Homo sapiens: one gene and its partners. The gene in region 3 interacts genetically with the main gene of each other region. Each region holds a gene or a part of one and is shown on either strand. Other genes may lie near its edges.

What was found.
Region 1: of EPS15L1 (region 3) and AGFG1, changing one enhances a phenotype caused by changing the other (phenotypic enhancement), as found in Homo sapiens cells (one study listed by BioGRID).
Region 2: of EPS15L1 (region 3) and AGFG2, changing one enhances a phenotype caused by changing the other (phenotypic enhancement), as found in Homo sapiens cells (one study listed by BioGRID).

The regions. Positions count from the first base shown.
Region 1 is NC_000002.12:227,467,501-227,475,155, reverse strand, and holds the start of AGFG1 (arf-GAP domain and FG repeat-containing protein 1), read right to left. Parts: upstream 3,001-7,655; 5' UTR 2,735-3,000; coding exon 2,568-2,734; intron 1-2,567. UniProt on the Homo sapiens protein: Required for vesicle docking or fusion during acrosome biogenesis. May play a role in RNA trafficking or localization.
Region 2 is NC_000007.14:100,542,168-100,549,202, reverse strand, and holds part of AGFG2 (arf-GAP domain and FG repeat-containing protein 2), read right to left. Parts: intron 5,737-7,035; exon of another isoform or gene 5,571-5,736; intron 2,796-5,570; exon of another isoform or gene 2,698-2,795; intron 382-2,697; coding exon 288-381; intron 1-287.
Region 3 is NC_000019.10:16,468,941-16,476,614, forward strand, and holds the start of EPS15L1 (epidermal growth factor receptor substrate 15-like 1), read right to left. Parts: upstream 3,031-7,674; 5' UTR 3,006-3,030; coding exon 2,973-3,005; intron 1-2,972.

The sequences.
Region 1 (7,655 bases), on a different chromosome or scaffold from region 3:
TTTTAAACCAATTAGATTCCGGTTTTGAGTTACAACCATAAAATCCAAAGTGACAGATTTTTATTAGGATATTTCTTATTTAATATCTTTCACATACAGTACTGTTCCCTTACTCATGGCATGTCCTCTTCCTTGATGCTTCTCATCTATAGGGCACTTGCTATATACCAGGCATTACGTGAGATGTTTAACATACATTATTTTTAATACTGAAAACAAATCTACATCCAAAACTTACAAGGGAAATCTTATCCTCACTGTTTCATATAAGAGAAAAATCAAGCTCAAATAGATTGAGTGACATTCTCAATACCGTATAACTAATACTTGGAGTCAGGATTCAAAGCCATGTGTACCTAGCTCATAAGTACTTGATCTTTCAAACATATGAAGCAGAATTTCTCGTTAAAGGTCTTTGCTCAGGCATCAACTCCCAGAGAAGCTGTATCATTTACATATTTCCTGGCTATCTCATTCACAGAAAGGAAATACTACAATATATTGTAACTCTACGTTTACATACTTACAAGGCACGCTCCATAGAACAGTTAAGATCCAGGTAACTTATGACACAGGACAAGTAGGCAATAAATATTTGTGGAATGACTCAATAGAGAAATGAAGTCCTATCTGCCACAGATTAAGTTCCATTAAGATAAATAATTGTCATTATACTGAGATATCCTTTTATGCACAATGTTTCTGAAATGTGGTATCTAGGAAGAAATTTGAAAATATGTCCTTGATATTACACATTTGCTGCTGTACTTACAGGGACTACACAGAAATGTCAGAAATCCGGAAGTGTAAATATATGTATTTTTTCCAAATCAAATACTTTACATGGATTAAAGGACCTGTGTTTAGTAAAAGCAGGACATACATCTTAACCATGTAATAAAAATCAAATACAATTACAATTGTTCTATTGGCTTCATTTTGGAACCAATATTGTCCAACGTAAGTAACAACTTTCTAGCTTAACTCCTTTTTCTGTAAATGAAATGCATGAACCAGGCTACCTCCTTGATATCACCTAGCTCTGTGATTCTGTAGTAATTCGAGAATATTATTAACTGGCAACTTCTCAGAGTGTCTCCCTGGCCACACAGCCTAAAAGTAACCATGAGCACTCTCCTATCAAACAATTTTCATGTTCAGCATAGTACTTGCCCAAGACATTTTTCTTACTTTTGCATCCCCACTGGACTGTAAGAACCAAGAGAACAAGACTTTGCTATATTTACTGGCACACCCCAGGGCCTTACACAACCTAATAGGCACCAAAAAAAATGTCTGCTGAAGAAATAACACTCATGTAATACTAATAATGCCTCTTTGCCCAACTTTAAAAAGCAAATAGTACATACTAGACATGTTCTGCATTTTCTAAGTTTTAAGAAATCAATTTTCCCACATAAAGTATTATGTGCTTTGTATTAATCTTACAAGCAAAGGTTTTAAAAATACTTAGTAACTGCCACGTTGTTAGTAACTTTAAATACAAGATAATAATATAAAAGCATTTTATCAATTCCAAAACCACCTGCAAATTTTCCGAATGAAATTGCACGGCAATAAAAATCTTTATCAAAATAAAGCTTAATGAAGCAAAGAACAACAAACACAAATCATCCCAGTAACTCAGGACGGTAGTGTCTTTCTGAAATCATGGTGACTTGCTAGCTCTCCTCATTTCTGTGTACAGCCAGGGCACTCGGGTATTGATAGCGAGATACAGATAAATCTCACAGATAACTCCATCATATTTAGAATCACACAGCTCCTAGTGGGTACCTTATTGCCATTAAAACTTTCCCCCAACTCCTCAACACTCTCTTCGGACCATAAAACTAAAATCCCACAGCTTCAAATCTGCTCCTCTGCCTCCCCCTCCCGCAATTAATCCTTTCGAACTTTTCCCAGGGGATTCACATCTGCCATCAAGATGCTTTCATCCTGCTACTATTCCTAAGTGCCTGCTTCCTCCCAGTTACGTAGGTACTCTCGACCCAGAAAAAAGGCACGGGCGAGGCAGGCGTCCCTCCCTCCCACCCCAGCTTCTCCCCGACCCCCAGCAGGAGCGCCCAGCAGGTGCCTCGCTCCGCACCGCGGCTCCCGGGCCGCTGAGAGGCGGGGCACACAAAGGACCCGCATGGACCTCCCCCCCGGCCTCCTAGCGTCTTCCCCCACCCCCCACAGCCCGGCGCCCCGGGTAGCTGGAGAGCGAGGGCGGCGGCCGCAGGCTCGACGGAGACCAGGGACGCTCGCCCCGGTCGCCCCCTCCCTGACCCCAACCCCGCCCACGTCCCACCCACGAAGGCTGCCCAGAACGTAAACCCTCGCCCGGCAAAACCGAAAACGCATCCCCAGCCCGGCTGCCCGGGCCCTGCGCATCCAGCCCGCAGCCTCCCACGCCGCGCCCGCCAGCCGGCGCCCAACGGCCGCCCCCGACCGCCTCCCACGGCACCCGGCTCTTTCCCAGCCCCGGAAGGGTCCCGGTCCCGCCGCCCGCTCCCCCACCTCCCGGGAAGGGCCCGACACCCGCCCGGCCGCCCCGCACTCACAGGCTGCCGGAGCAGGAGGTACACACGAAGGAGCCGACCGTCATGTTAACGTAGGTGGGGCCGCGCTGGTCGCAGTCGAAGCACTTTCGGTTGTGCGGGAGGCCGGTCATGTCCCGCAGCATCTTCAGGTGCTTCTCCTCCTGCTTCCGCTTCGCGCTGGCCGCCATGGCCGCGGCGCCAAGGGAGGAGGCCGGCAGGGCCGGGAGCCGGGCAGCGCTGCGCCGGGGGCCCGCGGTCCCACGGGCCGCCCTGGCCGCGGCCGCCGCCCTCCGTCTGCGCGCGCCGCCCGCGCCGGACCCGGCCGCAGCGGCTTGGCTGTACTGGGCTCGACGCGGCCCGGGCGCTGTGGTACGCGGGCTGACGGGCCACACCAACCGGCACAGCCGGGACAACCGCCGCCGCCGCCGCCACCTTCCCGACTTCTCCTGAGGGGAAAAGACGAGGAAGGGGACGGCAAGAGGAGGCCCGCCCTGGGCGGCCGGTAGCCAAGTGTCCGCTGGCGCCCTCTGCTGGCCAGGAGGAGTCACTGCGGCCTCGCTGAGGCATGGGCCGGGTCTGGAGCCAAGTAGGGTAGACACAATGGTGATAATAATATTAATAATAGACAGTATTTATTGAGCGCTTATATATGCAAAGCGTTTCACATGGGTTACCTTCCCCTTCTGTTTAAAACTCTTCAAGGGCTTTCCACTGCTTTGAGTATAATTCCAAATTCCTCACCGTGCCGTAAAAAGTGCTCCATAGTCTAGCCCAGTCTACCTCATTCTTCGTCGTCCTCACTCAGCCACACTGGATTTTGAGTTTTCTGAACACAGCAAGCTCCTTTCTGACTCCTGCAGGACCTTTGCCCTTGCTCTTCTCTCTTTATCTTTGGGCCAGCTAATTTGGGGGGGCTTGGGGTGTCCTGTGCACTGTAGGATACTGGGCGGCGTTCCTAGCCTATACCCACTAGATACAAGAACAAACCCCCCAATTCCCATTGCTGGCAACCAAAAATCCCCAGACATTGCCAAAAGTGGAGGGAACTTTAGGGCGGTGCAGTCACCTGGCTTGAGAACTGCTGCGTGTGGAAACCCGGATCATCCATAGCTGACATCCTCTAAGTCAGGTGGGGCTCAGATGTCACCTCCCCCGCCAGACTGTCCCAGATCAGCCGAGTTAATGTTGCAGCTCACCTTTCTCGAAGTTGCTCTCCATCAAATTGCTGCGTTGTATTTTCGTCTCAGTTCTAGCTATTTGAAATACTGCATCTTATTTCGTGTTTACCATGGGTGATCTGGACTCTCCCTTTAGGCGCTAAACAGCCTGGCCCCCGTATTTTCTGTGCCACTCCACCCCATTCCCCTCGCAGAGCTGGAGACTAGGTGTTCAATGTTGACGGAATGAATACATGAAATCGTTCATGTAATCTTCACAACAACCCTTCGAGGTGAGCGTTATTGTTATTTACATTTTACAAAACAGGAAGATGAAACCCTGAGGGATTAAGTAAATTTACCCAAGGGTACCTATGGCGAAGCTCAATTCCAACCCAGACAGCCAGACTGCAGGACCCAAATCCCCACTGCAACAATCAACTTCGTCTCTCGTTTTCCAAAGGAGTACAGGGAGACCCAGAGAGCTGAAGTTCTCAAATCACTGGGCTGTTGAATGGATTAGAATCTACGTTTCCTAACAGCCAAGACCAACCTCCACATCTCTCATGAAAGGGATTGGGTGAATCAACAAAGTGAGACTTCATATTAATATAATACTACTAATAATAATTAATGTTTTTAATATTAAAAGAAATGGACAGATAGATTGGCCAATGAATGTTTTTAAACTTTTCTATTATGGAAAATATCAAACTACCATGAGCCCATGGACCACTTTCAGCAATGATTAAGCCCATGGCTAATCTTGCTTTATAAATACCTCAACCCTCCATCCCCTCTCCTATTATTTTAAAGCAAATTCTAGGTTTCGTACCATTCATCTAAATGGTACATAGTTCCATTTGTATCCCTAAAAAATAAAAACTTTATCTCTTTCAAACTTAGCCATGATACCGTTAGCATATCTAAAAAGTTAACAATAGGCTGGGCACGATGGCGCACACCTGTAATCCCAGCACTGTGGGAGGCCAAGGCAGGTGGATTACCTGAGGTCAGGAGTTCAGGACCAGCCTGGCCTACATGGCGAAACCGGGTCTCTACTAAAAATATGAAAATTAGCCAGGCATGGTGGCATGCACTTGTAGTCCCAGCTACTTGGGAAGCTGAGGCAGGAGAATCACTTGAACCTGGGAGGCAGAGGTGGCAGTGAGCCAAGATTGTGCCACTGCACTCCAACCTGGGCAATAGAGCAAGACTCCGCCTCAAAAAAAAAAAAGTTAATAACTCCTAAAGATCATCAAATATCGCACTAGTGTTTAAGTTGGCAATTATCAATATTTTAATGAGATTTTTACAGTTTGTTTGAACCCACTCCTTGCAACTGGGTAATATGTCTCATAAGGTTTCTTTGGGTCTCTCCACCATCTCTTTTTTTTTAATTATAATTCATTTGTTTTAGTAATTGGGCACTTTATTCTGTAGAGTTTCTCATAATCTGTATCATTTAACATGTCCCTCTGTTCTATTTCCTAAAAATTGGTAGTTAGATCTAGTTCACTAGTATCCAGTTCAGTATTTTTGCGGGGCAGGCATTCATTTCATTGTGTTCTTCCATCAAGAGGGACATAATTGAGGAGAGGATATCTTTTTCATGATGTTGGTAACCATTGATGATTAATGTCTAGATTCATTAATTCATTAATGATTAGAAAATACTGATATTCTAATTCTGCCATTCTGGCTGGGTGCGGTGACTCACGCCTGTAATCCCAGCAACTTTGGGAGGCTGGGGCAGGAGGATCATCTAAGGTCAGGAGTTCGAGACCAGCCTGGCCAACATGGCGAAACCCCGTCTCTACTAAAAATACAAAAATTAGCTGAGCATGGTGGCAGGCACCTGTAATCCCAGCTACTCGGGAGGCTGGGGCAGGAGAATTGCTTGAACCCAGGAGGTGGAGGTTGCAGTGAGCTGAGATCCCACCACTGCACTCCAGCCTGGGTGACAGAATGAGACTCTGTCTCAAAAAAATAAAAAATAAAAATAAATAAATAAATAAAACTAATTCTACCATTCCTTCATTTATCAGCTCAAATTTTCTATAAAGAAAAAATTTCCCCTCATCTACCATTTTATTTGGTATAGTACATGTCAGAAAGGCAGGATAAATATTTGATTCCTTTCCTTTATTCACAAATTTTCAAAATAATGTATTGGCTTCATTTCACCTTCCAGTGGTGATCAATATATATAGACAGAGATATATAGATATATCTATATTTATATTTTGGAGACAGGGTCTCACTCAGTCACCCAGGCTGGAGTACAATGGTACAATCATAGCTCACTACAGCCTCGAACTCCTGGGCTCAAGTGTTCCTCCTGCCTCGGCACACCCCCTCAAGAAGCTAGGACCACCACTCCCGGCTAACTTTTGTATTTGTTGTAGAGACAAGCTGTCGCTATGTTGCCCAGGCTAGGCGATCAATATTTTTAAAGTGCTATTACAAACTCAAGGATTTAAATGTATTTAATATATTTTACATCCCCAGTGCTCACATTGTCTCATCATTGGCCAGTGGGAACCACTGAAAGCTGGCTTTTGAGTATTTTGACAAGACCCTTGACTTAATCCTGAAGTCAACTGAAGTTTTTGTTGTTGTTGTTGAGATGGAGTCTCACTCTGTTGCCCAAGCTGGAGTGCAGTGGTGCAATCTCAGCCCTGTCTCCTGTATTCAAGTGATTCTCCTGCCTTGGCCTCCCAAGTAACGGGGATTACAGATGCCCCCGACACCACACCCGACTAATTTTTGTATTTTTAGGAGAGATGAGGTTTCAGCATGTTGGCCAGGCTGGTCTCCAACTTTTGACCTCAAGTGATCCACCAGCCTCAGCCTCCCAAAGTGCTGGGATTATAGGCATGAGCCATTGAGACTGGCCCTGGAGTTATATTCTGACAGGGCCCCGGGCCATTCAAGAGATGAAAGCAATGTTGAATTCTTGACTGATCCAAACAGAAGGCTTACTGACCAGCCCCATGCTGGCTAAATATGACACCCAGCAGTCTCTTATTCATAACCAACAAATGCCCTCACGCCACAGCCAGTGGCTTATTTGTTTCTATATTTGCAGTGCTCCTTTGTCATTTGTTTGTTCTCTGGTTGCTCATCTCTCCATGGTCTATCATCTGATAAATTCCAAAATCAGAAGGCATGGCTGTAGCACCTTATGTATGCAAACAGTGGAATGAGTGGTTGGTTGATTATTGTGTTTTAGTTGTTTTAAAGAGACAGGAGTAAGGCTGGGCACAGTGGCTCATGCCTGTAATCCCAGCACTTTGGGAGGCCAAGGCAGGAGGATTGCTTAAGCCCAGGAGTTTAAGACCAGCCTGGGCAACATAGTAAGACCTTGTCTCTACAAAAAGAAAAAAAAAATTGATTAGCTGAGTGTGGTGGCATGTGCCTATAGTTCCAGCTACTCAGGTGGCTAAAGCCAGAGGATTGCCTGAGCCCAGCAGGTTGAGGCTGCTGTGAGCCATGGTCGTGCTACCGCACTGCAGGCTGAGTGACAGAGCGAGTGCTACCGCACTGCAGGCTGAGTGACAGAGCGAGACCCTGTCTCAAAAAAAAAAAAGAGAGAGAGAGAGACAAATGTAGGTGCAGTATTTCCAAACTATAGACCTGTAGGAAGGCGAATGTTTTCCTCAAGCTGAAAGTTTATACAACCCTTTTGGATGTTAGCTGTTTCATGCCATACATAGTATCAAAGTTGGTTTCTACTTTAAAATATCCCAAGGAGAGTTTGCTGTGTATCAAGCAAGACTACTTATTTACTTTAATTTCCGTAACTTTCATAACAACGCAGAAAGAGGTATTATTACCGCTGTTTTATATATGAGGAAACTAAGGCTCTGAAAGGCTGGCCTGCCCAAGGCCATGCCAGAAGTGAGGCATGAAGCCAGGATTCAAACCCAGATCTGGCTGCCAAGGCACC
Region 2 (7,035 bases), on a different chromosome or scaffold from region 3:
GCTCACGCTCTGGAGCTCTGGTCATTCTACCCCTCCATTGCTCAGGTGCCACATCCTACAACGATATTGCTACTTCCCCTGACTCCTGAAAAGGAGGCCTAGACAAACCATGATTTGTATAACAGAATAAAGATTCTGTAAATATACCTAAGGAAAGAAATCATACATATGAAAAAATTAAGAGAAACTCAACCAAAAATAAAACCGTAAGGTTTCCCTACAATCTTGAGGCAAAGCCCCACCTGCAGATAGGTGACCTTCTCACCACTCCATCGGTGGCAGCTCACCTCATTTCCACGGGATTGCAGGAATACTACTTCAGGCTCAGTGAAAGTTGTCATGGAGATTGACTTGACACGATGAGGGGGGTTCAGCCCTCTCCTATGGGAGAGAAACAGGAAGAAAGAGAAGTATAATGCAGTTAGCATGGCAGGCTGTTCATGGGAGGAGGAGGAGGAGGGAGAAAGGGTGAAAGAATAGCATATAAACTAAGCTCAGATAGAACCCCCCCATCTGAAGCTACTTCCTAATTCCAGGAAAGAAGGGAAATATTTGGAATATTTTGGAGATATTAGAAGTCTCCAAAGAGAGGCCAGGCACAGTGACTCACACCTGTAATCCCAGCACTTTAGAAGGCCGAGGCAGGCAGCTCACTTGAGGCCAGGAGTTCGAGACCAGCCTGGCCAATATGGTGAAAACCTGTCTCTACTAAAAATACAAAAATTAGCCGGGCATGGTAGTGCACGCCTGTAATCTCAGCTACTCAGGAGGCTAAGGCACAAGTATCGCTTGAACCTGGGAGGCAGAGGCTACAGTGAGCCAAAATCACCCCACTGCACTCCATCCTGGGCAACAGCAAGACTCTGTCCCCACTCCCACCACCCCCCTCCAACCCCCAAAAAAAAGAATCTCCAAAGAGACAGGGAAGAGAGAGTCAGGAACATCCTGTGATCCCAGTAGTTCTGGAGAGGAAAGGTAGAGCCTGCCCATCCAGAAGCCTCCTCTAGCCTGGCTCAGATCCCAGTAGTTTCAGTGTTCAGCCTGTAGGCCGAGGGGGGTACTTCTGGGAACTCAGACACGTGACCACTTCCCACTTCCTACTTTATCATTGTTTTAGACCTACAGCCCATCCCCAAGGTCCCAGGGCCCACAAAAACACAAATCCTTCAAGCATGAGGGAAGGCAAAAATGAAGGCCCAGTACTATTCTTGATAACACTAACAAAAACAGGATATGGTGACAAAAAACAGTCTCTAGCCCAGCTGGTCCTCCTTGTGTCTACAAAGAAGGGTGGAGTGGTGGTGGGATGGAGAGGGTCCCTCTCTTTCAGGAAGCCATCTCTAGGAAAAGAAATATTTGATTTTCTTATTTCTGTATCTCTCAATAAAGCAGGAAGAAGTCAAGTTCAACCATGAGCTATAAGGCTGGCATGGGCGAGGAATATGTAACCTGTGGCAATGCTTTTGTGCCTCCTCTGTATGTTCTGTTAACTCCCTGGGAATCCAGTTCTGCCTCCAGGAACCCTGTGGAGATTATAAGAGAAGAGAAGGCTTCCTTGTCCCCACTCAACTGGTCTCAGGAGTGTTCTAATACAGGAAACTTGGGGCTAAGCCAGGCAGGGCTTCATAGGTTCCCCTGTCCTTGCACCTTAAGTATTATTCTGGTCTAGGTCTACTACCCTCACTGGATTAAACAAAACTGCCCAAACCAAAACAAGCTAGATCCTGGGACAGGAGGGAAGCAGTCTCAGCAGATGAGGCCTCTTCAGACTTTTACTCTCATGGAAAAAAAAAAAATGGCCAAATCGAGTTGCTCAAATAAAAATCCAGAATAGGGTCCTGGCTGACATCCTCAGGAAGCGCAAAGGGGGAAAAAGAGACAAAAATATTTAACAGATGAAAATCCTGAAAATTCACAAAGAAGGTGGGGAAAACATACATTCACACTAACAGGTGCACACACAGAATCCAAGTGCTCCTGCCAAGTCTGGGAGAACAGCAGCGAGGTGTAAGCAAAAGCAGCGGTGGTGGGGGTGGGGGGCAGGGAGTGGGCGGACTCAGTACAGAGTGAACAGTAAGGGCGGCCACCCTGCGGATGATAAATTACTCATTATGGGATTTTAACAAAGGACAGGACACTGGAGGCTCCAGTTGACGCTGTTTGCAGCAATTCTGCTGCTAGACCTTTAGGTATAAAGGGTCTCAAAAATGCTCTTATAAAAGACAAGCAATATCAAAGAGGACTGATGCCCCCAAGGAAAGATAAGCTCAGGGAAAAACGAAAGCAAGGCTTTGTTACTACATATCAAACAATAGCTCTTAAGCTTGGTCTGCCCCGAAGACTGTCTTCCGATCACATTTCAGAGATAGTCCATTCTCTCTCCTAAGGCCTCTCTTGCTAATGGCTTGGTTTGGTTTTGCTTTTAATTCTAGCCAGCCTGCTTTTAGACTTTCTCACCTTAACCACTAGGCCCTTCCCCTTCAGAATGTCAGGGCTTTCTGAAGTCTAGCCAGACCTCATTGTCCCTGTGATCTCAAAGGTCTTCTCCTTCACCTCCTACAAACAAAATTTACTTTGCCAAAACACAAGGCATTATGGGAGGCACTGTGGGGGATACAAAAATTATAGGACAGAGTTATCTTATCACCAGGAGCTCACAAGAAGAACCCAGGAAGCCTGGACAAAGGTACTTCTTACTGCAGTAGGGTGCTATTCAGTCAGGCACTGATGGATCAGGGAGAACGTGACTCCAGGATGCAGCAGTTGCGGAAGGAAGAGAAACAGTCATGGGGAAGGTAAAATGTATTATGTTTACACTAGAAAAACAGATTCTAAGCCTATCACAAAAAGGTCATTGACATTTCCTGAATGGATAACCAGGAACTGTTAGCGAACTGTAAACAGGGAGGTATGCTTCCTTGTTAGGGGGAGGAGGCAGGACTCAACCCAGGCATCAATCAAAATGGGATGCTTAGAACAGAACTTATGGTTGAGCCTGGACTAAAAGAGTTTATTTTTGGTGGGGGTGGCGGGCGGGGGGGGCGGCAGACGTGACAGGATGATGGGAAGGCAGAGAAAATAAGAAATGATTTAGGTGCTTTGGGCCAAATGAATCTGATGGAACAGGATGTTTCCATAGCACAGTACAAAAAGCATTGCTCTGACCTTGATGTCTGTAGACTGGATTTTGTACAACCAGAGCCACAGTCTGGGGGCAGGGAGAATTCTCTACAAGGCAACACTGCAGCCTAGGAAGGGGGCCTAGTTACATGGCCTATGAGTCAGAGTTTTTCTTTCTGAATCACAGAGAGGCCACTGCTGGCCAAAAGAAGCAATTTAGAAACGAGAGCCCCCTTCCTCCTGGTAGCTAAAACCATGTGGCCTAGGTGTGCTGCATTTCACTGGGTACACACCAGGGTCATGCAGCGGACCAGATGTGAGTCACTGGCCTGGAATTAAACAGGCCCAGCTCTCCCACTTGCACCCAGCTCCCCAACATAACTCTCAGGTTCCTCCCAAAAGAGGTAATCACAGCAAATTCATTCTGGTATTTCTAACCAGGAAGTGCTGGGGAGGAACAGAGATCAATTTATTTTCTCAGAATAGAGTAAGTTTTTCCAATGGAAAGTACATTATTACTAGGACTCAAGCCTCCAGCCAGTCAGGTTGTCTTTATCCACTTCAGTTTCTTTTTCACAGGGCACCTAAAGGGCATATGAAGTATTCTGAATTATTTGGCAGCTGAAGCCACTTGTATGTGTAGCTGCTAACAACTGCCCAGTCCTCTCTCTTTCCCTCCCTCCCGTCTCCTCTCTGATTCCATTAGGCATAGTACTATTTCCACAAATACCACACCTTTTGTTTTTCTGTGATCATCACCCTCATGCTGGCCCATATTTTTGCTTCTATCTTGCTTCATAAAAGCATCAAACCTGCTCAGCTGCTCAGATAAGAAAGTTCTGCCAGGTCAACAATGGAAAAAAACCAGTTCCACCCAGCACCCAAGTTCTTTTTCATTTGTGCCAAATTTGGACTTGGGAAATCCTTGCCTTTGAACAATTGTGTTCAGATTCATACACCCCAGATCGTGTTTCTTTGCTCTGGGATTTCACTCCTCTGCTTCTGAACAGGATACAACTAAACCAGTTTAGCTCTTATCTTGGATGCAAACATCACCATGAAGAGTCCCTGTTAGGAACTTTTAATAGTCCCTAAGAGGAAGGCTCTCCTATTACCCTGCTCCAGGGTCAATTTCACTAATTTTAGGAACCCTCTTCCTGATCTAAATTCTGCTTCAACCCATTTCCTTTGTTCCTCCTCAGCAGCAATGATAAACAGCTGTCCTGTTGATTAGAGCCAGGTAGACTCCTGATAGCATCCAGCCGCCCTTCCCTTTAGGCTCAACCTCAATCTTTTTTACATGTCTCCCTCTGCCCTCACCTCTCTCATCCCCACCCCCCCGCCCACCACCCCACGTCGAGCTTTTTCTCATCCCTTTAGTAATTTATCACTTCCTTCGGGGCTTTTCAAGTGGTTCATGCACCCCTTATGAAACAGCACCTACATCTGTAATTTAGTGAGAGACTCTGTCCACCTCTGCCCAGCAGAGGTCAACATGAAAGGTGACAGAGGAGGGGATGGAGGGATGGGACTAAAACAGGGGCAAGGTACATGTGTACCTCTCCAACCCAGACAGATGGAAAAGTACTGAATTATTGAAGAACATACTGTACCTTTCCTCCCATGGAGATTAAAATGCTTCAACTAAGAACCACCAGCAAGCCCGACAGGGAAAGTAAGGCACAAGGAGGGCAGGAACTTGTCACAAATAAAGAGCTGTCAAGTGCATTCTTGACACCCAGCCCAGAGCTCTGCCCACCTTAATTCTGACTCCTGTGATCACAGTAAAGTTGGGCAGAAATAGAAGAGATAAGTGTCTATTACAAACACCTGAAGAACGATGGATTGAAGATGGACCCAAACAGCCACATCAAGGAAATATGTCATACTTTGCTGAAAAAACTGGGTGTCAAAGTTAGCGTCCATCCTTGTGTCAATGAGATCTCAGGCCTCAACATCCATTTTCTTTCTGAGGAACAGTGGTTCATTCACAGACGCATTCAGGCAAACCAGAACAAGAAAGAACATTTAAAGCACTGCTTTGCAAATAGATGCTTTTTAGCAGCAATTTTTACCACGTCTTAAGATTCAAATGACAGATTCATCCTCCAAGAATTAGAAATGTAACTAAACAAACAAGCATATGTGTATGTTGGGGAAATTAAACAGATCCACATCTAGGTTAAGGAAATTAGGTACTGGAAGAAAACCAAATGAATAAAACTAGGTCAGGTGTGGGACCTACAATTGTGGCAGTATGTATGTAAATTTAGGAACAGCAGAAACTAGCAGCCTTTCTCTCAACCCCTCACACCAACGCTGTAGGTTTTTGCTACAGCTGAGAAAATATTTCTCATTAAAAAAGAGAGAACAAGAATGAGTTCATACATGCAGGGATGCAGGCAGAGTCATACCCACCCACCAATATTAAAATGTGTGTTTTTCTTCAGATCTTAGGAAATTCAACTTTGGCTGGAACCATCAACTTTGCTACATCGGCCAATCCAACCAGCTGGGAATTCTAGTAATTTTGCTCACTGCCCCCAGACGACTCTATCCCCTTATGAAGGAGACATATTTGTAACCCACTGAACAGAAAACTGGCCTTTAAAATAATGTCATCCTGCTGTCTCCTTTCTGTGGCTACGGTGCTAATGTGGTATTTCAATTTCTTCCCTCAATATCCTCTTCATTTTAACAAAGAATATTTCTTCTCGAGGCCAGGCACAGTGGCTCACGCCTGTAATCCCAGCACTTTGGGAGGCCAAGGCAGGTGGATCACCTGAGGTCAGGAGTTTGAGACCAGCCTGGCCAACATGGTGAAACCCCGTCTCTACTAAAAATACAAAAATTAGCTGGGCGTGGTGGTGTGCACATGTAATCCCAGCTACCTGGGGAGGCTGAGGCAGGAGAATCGCTTGAAACCAGGAGGTGGAGGTTGCAGTGAGCCAAGATCGGACCACTGCACTCCAGCCTGGGCGACAGAGCGAGACTCCATCTCAAAAAAAAAAATTAATAATAATATTTCTTCTCTTTGCATCATACCTCAGTTTGGTATCACTCTAACCCACAGAGCTTCATTTTACTTCATAGCTTTTAGCAATACAGAACGATTTCTTTATAGTCCATGGCTTCCACTAGGATGTCAGCTCCGTGAAAATGGGAACTTATCACTACTGTATCTCCAGTACCTAAAACAGTGTCTGGCGCTTGATAGGCACTGAATAAGTTCGTGTTGACTGACCGAATGAATAAACATGCAGGCTGTCAGCCGACCACAATTTTCACTTCCCACCAACACCAAACCCTAATCTACAGGTAATCAATCATGGGGATTTAAGATGCTAATTGGTCTCCGTGCCACCATGGAGCCATGCCTCCAGAAATAAGCATCCCCTGCCTCACATTCTGCCTTACAGCCCACCTGCCAGCTCCCACTCCTTCCCACAGCATATCAAAGGGACACAGGTAATACTGTGTTAAGACCCCTTTACAAGGATTATATGCCTTGCCCTTGTCATGCTAATTATAGGGAAACTCCAGCTTTCTTGCAGAGTTTCTCCTGAAATTTCTCACTCTCAACATACCTTCAATTCAGCTTCATTTACTGGCCTAACCTCTTGATCTTTCATTTCACTCTCATTTCCTACTAACAAAGGGTTGGTCTAGCTTCTCATTTCCCAAACACCAAAATATGCTCTCTAAATCCTCCTCTGTGAGAATCACTCCCTGGTTTAGTCTCATAATGCTTTACCAAAAAGCTAAGCAGGCTGGGTGCCGTGGCTCACGCCTGTAATCCCAGCACTTTGGGAGGCGAGGCGGGCGGATCACTTGAGATCAGGAGTTCGAGACCAGCCTGACCAACATGGCAAAACCCCGTCTCTACTAAAAATACAAACATTAGCCAGATGTGGT
Region 3 (7,674 bases):
GCCCAGGAGTTTGAGGTTGCAGTGAGCTATGATCCTACCACTGCACTCCAGCCTGGGGGACAGAGCGAGACCCTGTCTCAAAAATCAAAAAGATGACTTCCACAGTGGCGTGGGATTAAGTGGGAGGGAGTGGGCAAGTAGGAAGTAGAATGGCCCAGACCACTTTGGGGCATGGCAAGGAAATGGCCCATTCCAGAGTCCAGCAGGCTGGCAGAGGTGCAGGAGAGAGACACCTTCTGGACTCTAGAAGGCAGGTTTGAAGTCCTCTGCACAGAAGCTCCAGGGGAGGGAGCGCACAGAGAGATAAGATGCAGGTAGGGAGGCTGAAATTAGGGGACAAGAAGGAGAGACTGAAAGGAGAGAGGATGAAGAGTGAAGACCGACGGGCTCCAGTGTTGCGGAGTTCGAGGAGGATCGGCTGCAGCCACAGGGCACCGGGGTTAAGGACGGAGGGGCCACCGGTAACCTCGGGGAGTACAAGGAGGAAAGAGATCTGGATGCATTTCCACGGAAGGCTTTTTGGAAAGCAGAAGAGAGCTGAGCAGGGGGACAGGGAGACACACAAATCACTGAGATGCTGTTGGGAAAAAAAAATCACTCCTAAAGAGGCAGAGGTGCAGACCTTTCGAATTTACGTTGATATTCAGGGTCAGAAAAGAGTATATAAGGAAGGAGATTCTGAGATGATGTCATGGAGTACAGAACAGACTGAAAAAGATGCTGATGGGAAAAGTGCAGACAGGAGTGGGGGTGGAGAAAACACACCCCTCCTCCCCTAGGCTAGCCCGCTGGGTTATCCACTTTGCTCACCTTCACCTGGCCATCTGCTTGCCAAGTGTGCTCTGTCACCTAAATCCAACCAGATCACAGCCACCTGCTGCAGGGTGCTTCCCTTTTGCCCCCAACCAAAAATTTTGGAATTATACCCTTGGTTCCCCCAGAGTTATCTGTGAACCCAAGTGATCTCCTGAGCTAGACAGTAAGGGCCTGGGAGGGCCATGCCTCACACCTGGGCCAACAGTAACCCATGGTGTAGATTTTCACTCGAGAGCAAGTGTAAAGAAGTGCTGACATTTCCAAACGAAGAAAACCAGGCCACGCCTTCATTCAACAAATGTATAGGGAAAGGAACAGGAAGAGGCTAAGAAGTCAGTGACCTGGCCAGGCGCAGTGGCTAACGCCTGTAATCCCAGCACTTTGGGAGGCCAAGGCGGGTGGATCACTCGAGTTCAGGAGTTTGACACGAGCCTCGCCAAAATGGTGAAACCCCGTCTCCACTAAAAAAAAAATACAAAAATTAGCCGGGTGTGGTAGCACGTGCCTGTAGTCCCAGCTACTCAGGAGGCTGAGGCAGGAGAATCACTTGAACTCGGGAGGCGGAGGTTACAGTGAGCTGAGATCATGCCACTGCACTCCACCCTGGGTGACAGAGCAATACTCCATCTCAAAAAAAAAAAAATTGGACAGGAAGTTTTAGAAAGATCCACGCCTCCCAAACTGGGAGTGCTTAGTGCTTTCTCATGAAATGATCTTAGGTGATTTTCCCCCGACTCCCGCCTTCCCCGCCCCCCACCCCCTGACTACATACTCTAAACTGTAGCACTTAGCTATTAACACCTATTATCGGTAGGACACTTAACAGTTTACAGAGCACTTTCATGTCAGTAACAAGAACTTGCTAATTAATAATCACCGGGTTTTAGCACTGTTAACTTAGTGACAGTGTTGCAAATTGGCTAGCTGTGCACTTCTCTCTCCTTGGATCAGCTAACCAGTCATGCAAGCATGCAACCGGCCTATCAACTCTCTTTGGGTTTGGAATTCTTAATTGCTGCGGTCTCTACTCCCAAACGTCCAAATCTGGCAGAGATTAAATGATGACAGTAATTATAGGATCACTGAGTGCCTCTCATATGCTAGGCACTGTTCTAAGCGCTTTTTCACGTGCTTAATTTTCACATAATCCCAACACATTTTTATATCTCCATTTTCCAAAGGAAGCAACTGATGGGTGGAATGGCTAAGAGCTTCAACCAAAGGCACAGAGAAATCGGGGCTGGAGCCAAGATTTGAACACATGATCTGACCCTGTGTCCTCACTCTTAATCACCATGCTGTGCTAGATCATTCTAGCAAAATGCTTATATGGTGCTTTGCACAACACAGGTATTCAGCAAATAAAGGCAGCTGTGATTAGCATAACACAGGTAGTTTCTAGTTCCCACGAGTGTCACCTCCAGGAAAGCAGCGACCTTGTCTGTCTGGAAGAATGCAGCGCTCCCAGCACCTGACCCAACGCACATTTGAGGGATGGATAGAAAATGAATGAATGAAAGTCTCTCCCAAATAACAGAGCTGCCTACGCATGGCTCTTTTTCGCATGTCTGTGTCGCGCTATCGATACTGCCCCTTCATAAGCGCATCAGGCGAATTTGAGGACACAGAGAGGCGCCCGGAGACGTACGATCTGCGCCCGGTGCAGGGGTGGCGGAAGCAGCTTCCAAGGAGGCAGGGGATCAGTCTGAGATCGCACTGCTGCTGACGGGTCCGGGCTCCGGCGGGACCCTGCCCGCCCGGGCGCCGGGACCGGAGGGAGACAAAGACTCGCTGGGCCGCCGCGCCGACAGAAACGCTCGCACCCCTCGCCCACCCCTCCGGGATGCAGCCCAGCGCCTCCGCGGGTCCCCGGCCTGGGAGCTTCAGCGGCGGCAGGGTCCGGGCCCTGGGCGGAGAGGACACGCGCTGCGCACCTCCTCGCCTCGCCGGTGCCCGCGAGGGTCGCTCGGGCACGGGAGGCCGCGGGTCCCGGCCTGTCACCTTCAGGGCCGCCTGCCCACCCGCCCGCCGCAAGCCCTTCAGCACGCGCCGCCCCCGCCGCCGCCTGGCTGAGTCTCCCAGCGCCTCAGCCTCGCCGCACCGCTCGCCTCGCGCCCCGCACCCCGGCGCCGCCCCCAGGCCCGCCCGGCCCGTACCTGCTGGGAGAGGGGGATGAGCGGCGCCGCCATCTTCCCGCGGACTCGGGCTCCGAGCGCCGGGGGAACGGGGGCGGGGCTGCAGCCACGCGTGCGCACTGGGACGACGGGAGGGCGGTGCGCAGGCCGCCTGTCCCGGGAGAGGGCGGGGCCGTAGACAGGGCCACGCATGTGCAGTCAGGCCGGGAGGGGCGGGGGCAGGGGCGGGGCCGCCCACACGCAGCCTGGAGGGGCTGGGCCTGAGGCATCTGCGTCTTCCGTGCTCTCTTGCCCGTTCCCCTACTCCTCCTTCCAACGTTGTTCGGACTCTCATGCCGCTGGCCGCTGTCCGAGTCGACCATGCTGTGTCATCCCTCCAGCCCATGCCGAGGCCTGGTTCTCTGTTAGGGATGCCGTCCCCCTGCCAGTGCGCCTGGGGAGGCGGTCGCCCACCCCGCGGAGGGTCGGGACCCTCACCCTGCCCCGCAAAGCGCCCTGTTCCTAGGATCGCAGTGTGTGTGTGTGTGTGTGTGTGTGTGTGTGCGCGCTAATTTGGGGGACCCGCACCCTGCCCCCCTCACCCTGCCCCGCAAGGCGTCCTCCTGGCTGTGGTGGCGGGCACCTGAAATCCAAGCTACTCAGGAGACTGAGGCAGGAGAATTGCTTGAGCCCAGGAAGCAGAGGTTTCAGTGAGCCAAGATCACACCATTGCAATCCAGCCTGGGCAACAGAAGCGAAACTCTGTCTCAAAAATAAATAAATAAATAAGACAAGAACCCACTTGTTGCCAGGTACAGTGGCTTACACCTGTAATCCCAGCACTTTGGGAGGCCGAGGTGGGAGGGTCATGAGGTCAGGAGTTGGAGACCAGCCTGGCCAGTATGGTGAAACATCAATATGGTGAAACCCCATCTCTACTAAAAAAAATACAAAAATTAGCAGGTGTGGTGGTGCATGCCTGTAGTCCCAGCTACTCAGGAGGCTGAGGCCAGAGAATCACTTGAACCCGGGAGGTGGAGGTTGCGGTGAGCCAAGATTGCACCACTGCACTCCAGCCTGGGTGACAGAGTGAGACTCTGTCTCAAAACAAAGTCAAAAACAAAAAGAACCCACTTGTAACTGTTGCTAATCAAAGCATACATTCAGGGCAACTTGAATCTGTGTCTCCTGGACTGCGGTCCTCAACCTTGGCCCAAACTCTCTACTTATATTAACTTTGCCTCAGCTTCTTTTGTTACATCAATAGAGTAATGAAGGTTTTTAACAGTCTTGAGTGCTTTATCAGTACGTATTCCATAAGGAAAAGAGAAGTCCTTCTAGGTACTTCAAACAGAGGATATTGAATACAGGGGATTGAGCCAGGCTCTGTGGCTCACACTTGTAATCCCAGCAATCCAGTTGAGACAGGTAGATTGATACCAGCCTGGCCAACATGGAGAAACCCCATCTTTACTAAAAATACAAAAATTAACCCAGTGCAGTGGCAGGTGCCTGTAATCCCAGCTACTCAGGAGGCTGAGGCAGGAGAATTGCTTGAACCTGGGAGGGGAAGGTTGCAATAAGCTGAGAACTCACCATTGCACTCCAACCTAGGTGACAGAGCGAGACTCTGTCTAAAAAATAAATAAATAAAAATAAATGAATACATAAACGACTACAGGGGACTGAGTATAAAAGTGTTGGAAGTACTGGAAGAACAAAAGAGGAAGGTAAGTTTACCTAAAGATTCATAACTATATGAGGCTGCTAGCCTCTCTAGAGCTGAAAGATTAAAGCAGGGGAGGTGGCTGGGCATAGTGGCTCACGCCTGTAATCCCAGCACTTTGGGAGGCCGAGGTGGATGGATCACCTGAGGTCAGAAGTTTGAGACCAGCCTGGCCAACATGATGAAATCCCGTGTCTACTAAAAATACAAAAATTAGCCGGTTGTGGTGGTGGGCACCTGTAATCCCAGCTACTCGGGAGGCTGAGGCAGGAGAATCACTTGAACCTGGGAGGCGGAGGTTGCAGTGAGCTGAGATCACGCCACTGCACTCCAGTTTGGGCAACAAGAGCGAAACTCCGTCTCAAAATAAATAAATAAATAAAGCACAGGAGGACCCATAACCCACAATCACTGTGCCTACAGAAGGATCCCAGATGTGTTCACCCTTGCTAGCCACAGTTGCCTCCACCATGATTGCGAAAGTCACAGTTGTTGTTGTCACCACCACCTAAGCCACTGGCAGAAGTCTGAAAAAATGGTTTCTCCCCTCTTTCTGCCTCCCAACTTTGTTCTAATAAAGCATGACAGGAACGTTGCCAATTGGCAACGGCGTCCAGGAAATGTAGCATGCAGGCTTTAAGTGCCAGTATCAGAGTCTAGAATGGTGGTGGCCATAGAAACTCTCCAGCATCATCTTGTAAAAATAATCCAAACTTGGCTGGGCGCGGTGGCCCACACCTGTAATTCCAGCCCTTTGGAGGGCCGAGGCAGGCAGTTCACGAGGTCAGGAATTCGAGACCAGCCTGGCCAACACAGTGAAACCCCATCTCTACTAAAAATACAAGAATTAGCCAGGCGTGGTGGCGGGTGCCTGTAATCCCAGCTACTCGGGAGGCTGAGGCAGGAGAATTGCTTGAACCTGGGATGGGGAGGTTGCAGTGAGCCAAGATCGCACCATTGCACTCCAGCCTGGGCAACAAGAGCAAAACTCCGTCTCAGAAGAAAAAAAAGAAAAAAAAAAAGGCCGGGCATGGTGGCTCACGCCTGAAATCCCAACACTTTGGAAGGCCGAGGCAGGCAGATCATGAGGTCAGGAGATCGAGACCATCCTGGCCAACATGGTGAAACCCCATCTCTACTAAAAATACGAAAATTTAGCCGGGCATGGTGGGGGGTGCCTGTAGTCCCAGCTACTTGTGAGGCTGAGGCAGGAGAATGGCATGAACTCAGGAGGCGGGTCTTGCAGTGAGCCGAGATCGCGCCACTGCACTCCAGCCTGGGCAACACAGAAACTTCGTCTCAAAAAAAAAAAAAAAAATCCAAACTTAATCATACACTTTTGAACCCTAAGAATTATGTTGAGCCTTGAAGAAAACGGGACTGTGTGATCTGAGCCAGACAGCATGTAACTACAACTTCTGCTTATAGATTATAGATTAACTCTCCTGTTCTTGCTCTGTAGATTCATTTCAAGACTAAATGGCATCAGCGTTAAGATCGCCCTTCTTCATTGCTGACCTTTCCTCTATTATCTTGCACCTAAATCAGACCAGATAGTGCAAAAGGTCCTGTGACTGTTATGTCCTCTATGTGAATGTTAAATATACCCTTCCCAAAAAGACCACTGCCTTGACTAATCAGATTACTGTTAACTATGTACTTGCCTTGTGTGAAATATGTAGAAACGCTGTCAAGCTTCCCAAACCTTACCTATATAAATGACCCCCAAACTTCCTCAGTTTGGAATGCTGATTTCCATTCTTTGGAATCTGTGTTCCAGGGTGGCCGTCCTCAAACTTTTGTGCTAAACTAAACTCTATATTTAACCATATTTCCTGAATTTATTTATTTAGGGTTGATGTTTTGATGATCCAGATGGGATCTGAAGTGGAGTTCCAGTGATCCCTGCCACTTCTCACAATCAGACCCTTTGTACTGTTACCGCAAAGGGGTCTTGATCCAGACCCCGAGAGGGTTCTTGGATCTCACCCAAGAAAGAATTAGTGCGAGTCCATACAGTAAAGTGAAAGCAAGTTTATTAGGAAAGTAAAGGAATAAAGGAATGGCTACTTCATAGAGCAGCCCCAAGGGCTGCTGGTTGCTTTTTTTTTTTGGGAGAAGTTTCACTGTTGTTGCCAGGGCTGGAGTGCAATGACGGGATCTCAGCTCACCACAACCTCCACCTCCTGGGTTCAAGTGGTTCTCCTGCCTCAGCCTCCTGAATAGCTGGGATTAGAGACATGCACCACCACGCCCAGCTAATTTTGTATTTTTAGTAGATGTGGGGTTTCTCCATGTTGGTTAGGCTGGTCTTGAACTCCCAACCTCAAGTGATCCGCCTGCCTCGGCCTCTCAAAGTGCTGGAATTACAGGCTTGAGCCACTGTGCCTGGCCAGGTTGCTCATTTTTATGGTTATTTCTTGATGATATGCTAGACAAGGGGTGGATTATTCATGCCTTCCCTTTTTACTTATTTATGTATTTATTTATTTATTTTTTGAGACGGAGTCTCGCTCTGTCACCCAGGCTGGAGTGCAGTGGCGCGATCTCGGCTCACTGCAAGCTCCGCCTCCCGGGTTCACGCCATTCTCCTGCCTCAGCCTCCCGAGTAGTTGAGACTACAGGCACCCACCACCACGCCCGGCTAATTTTTTTGTATTTTTAGTAGAGACAGGGTTTCACTGTGTTAGCCAGGATGGTCTCGATCTCCTGACCTCGTGATCCACCCATCTCAGCCTTCCAAAGTGCTGGGATTACAGGCGTGAGCCACCGCGCCCGGCCCCCTTTTCAGGCTGCCATATACAGTAACTTCCTGATGTTGCCATGACCTTTGTAAACTGCCATGGCGCTGGTGGGAGTGTAGCAGTGAGGACCACCAGAGGTCACTCCCATCACTATCTTGGTTTTGGTGGGTTTTAGCCGGCTTCTTTACTGCAACCTGTTTTATCAGCAAGGTCTTTAGTGCTGACCTCCTATCTCATCATGTGGCTAAGAATGCCTTAACCGCCTGGGAATGCA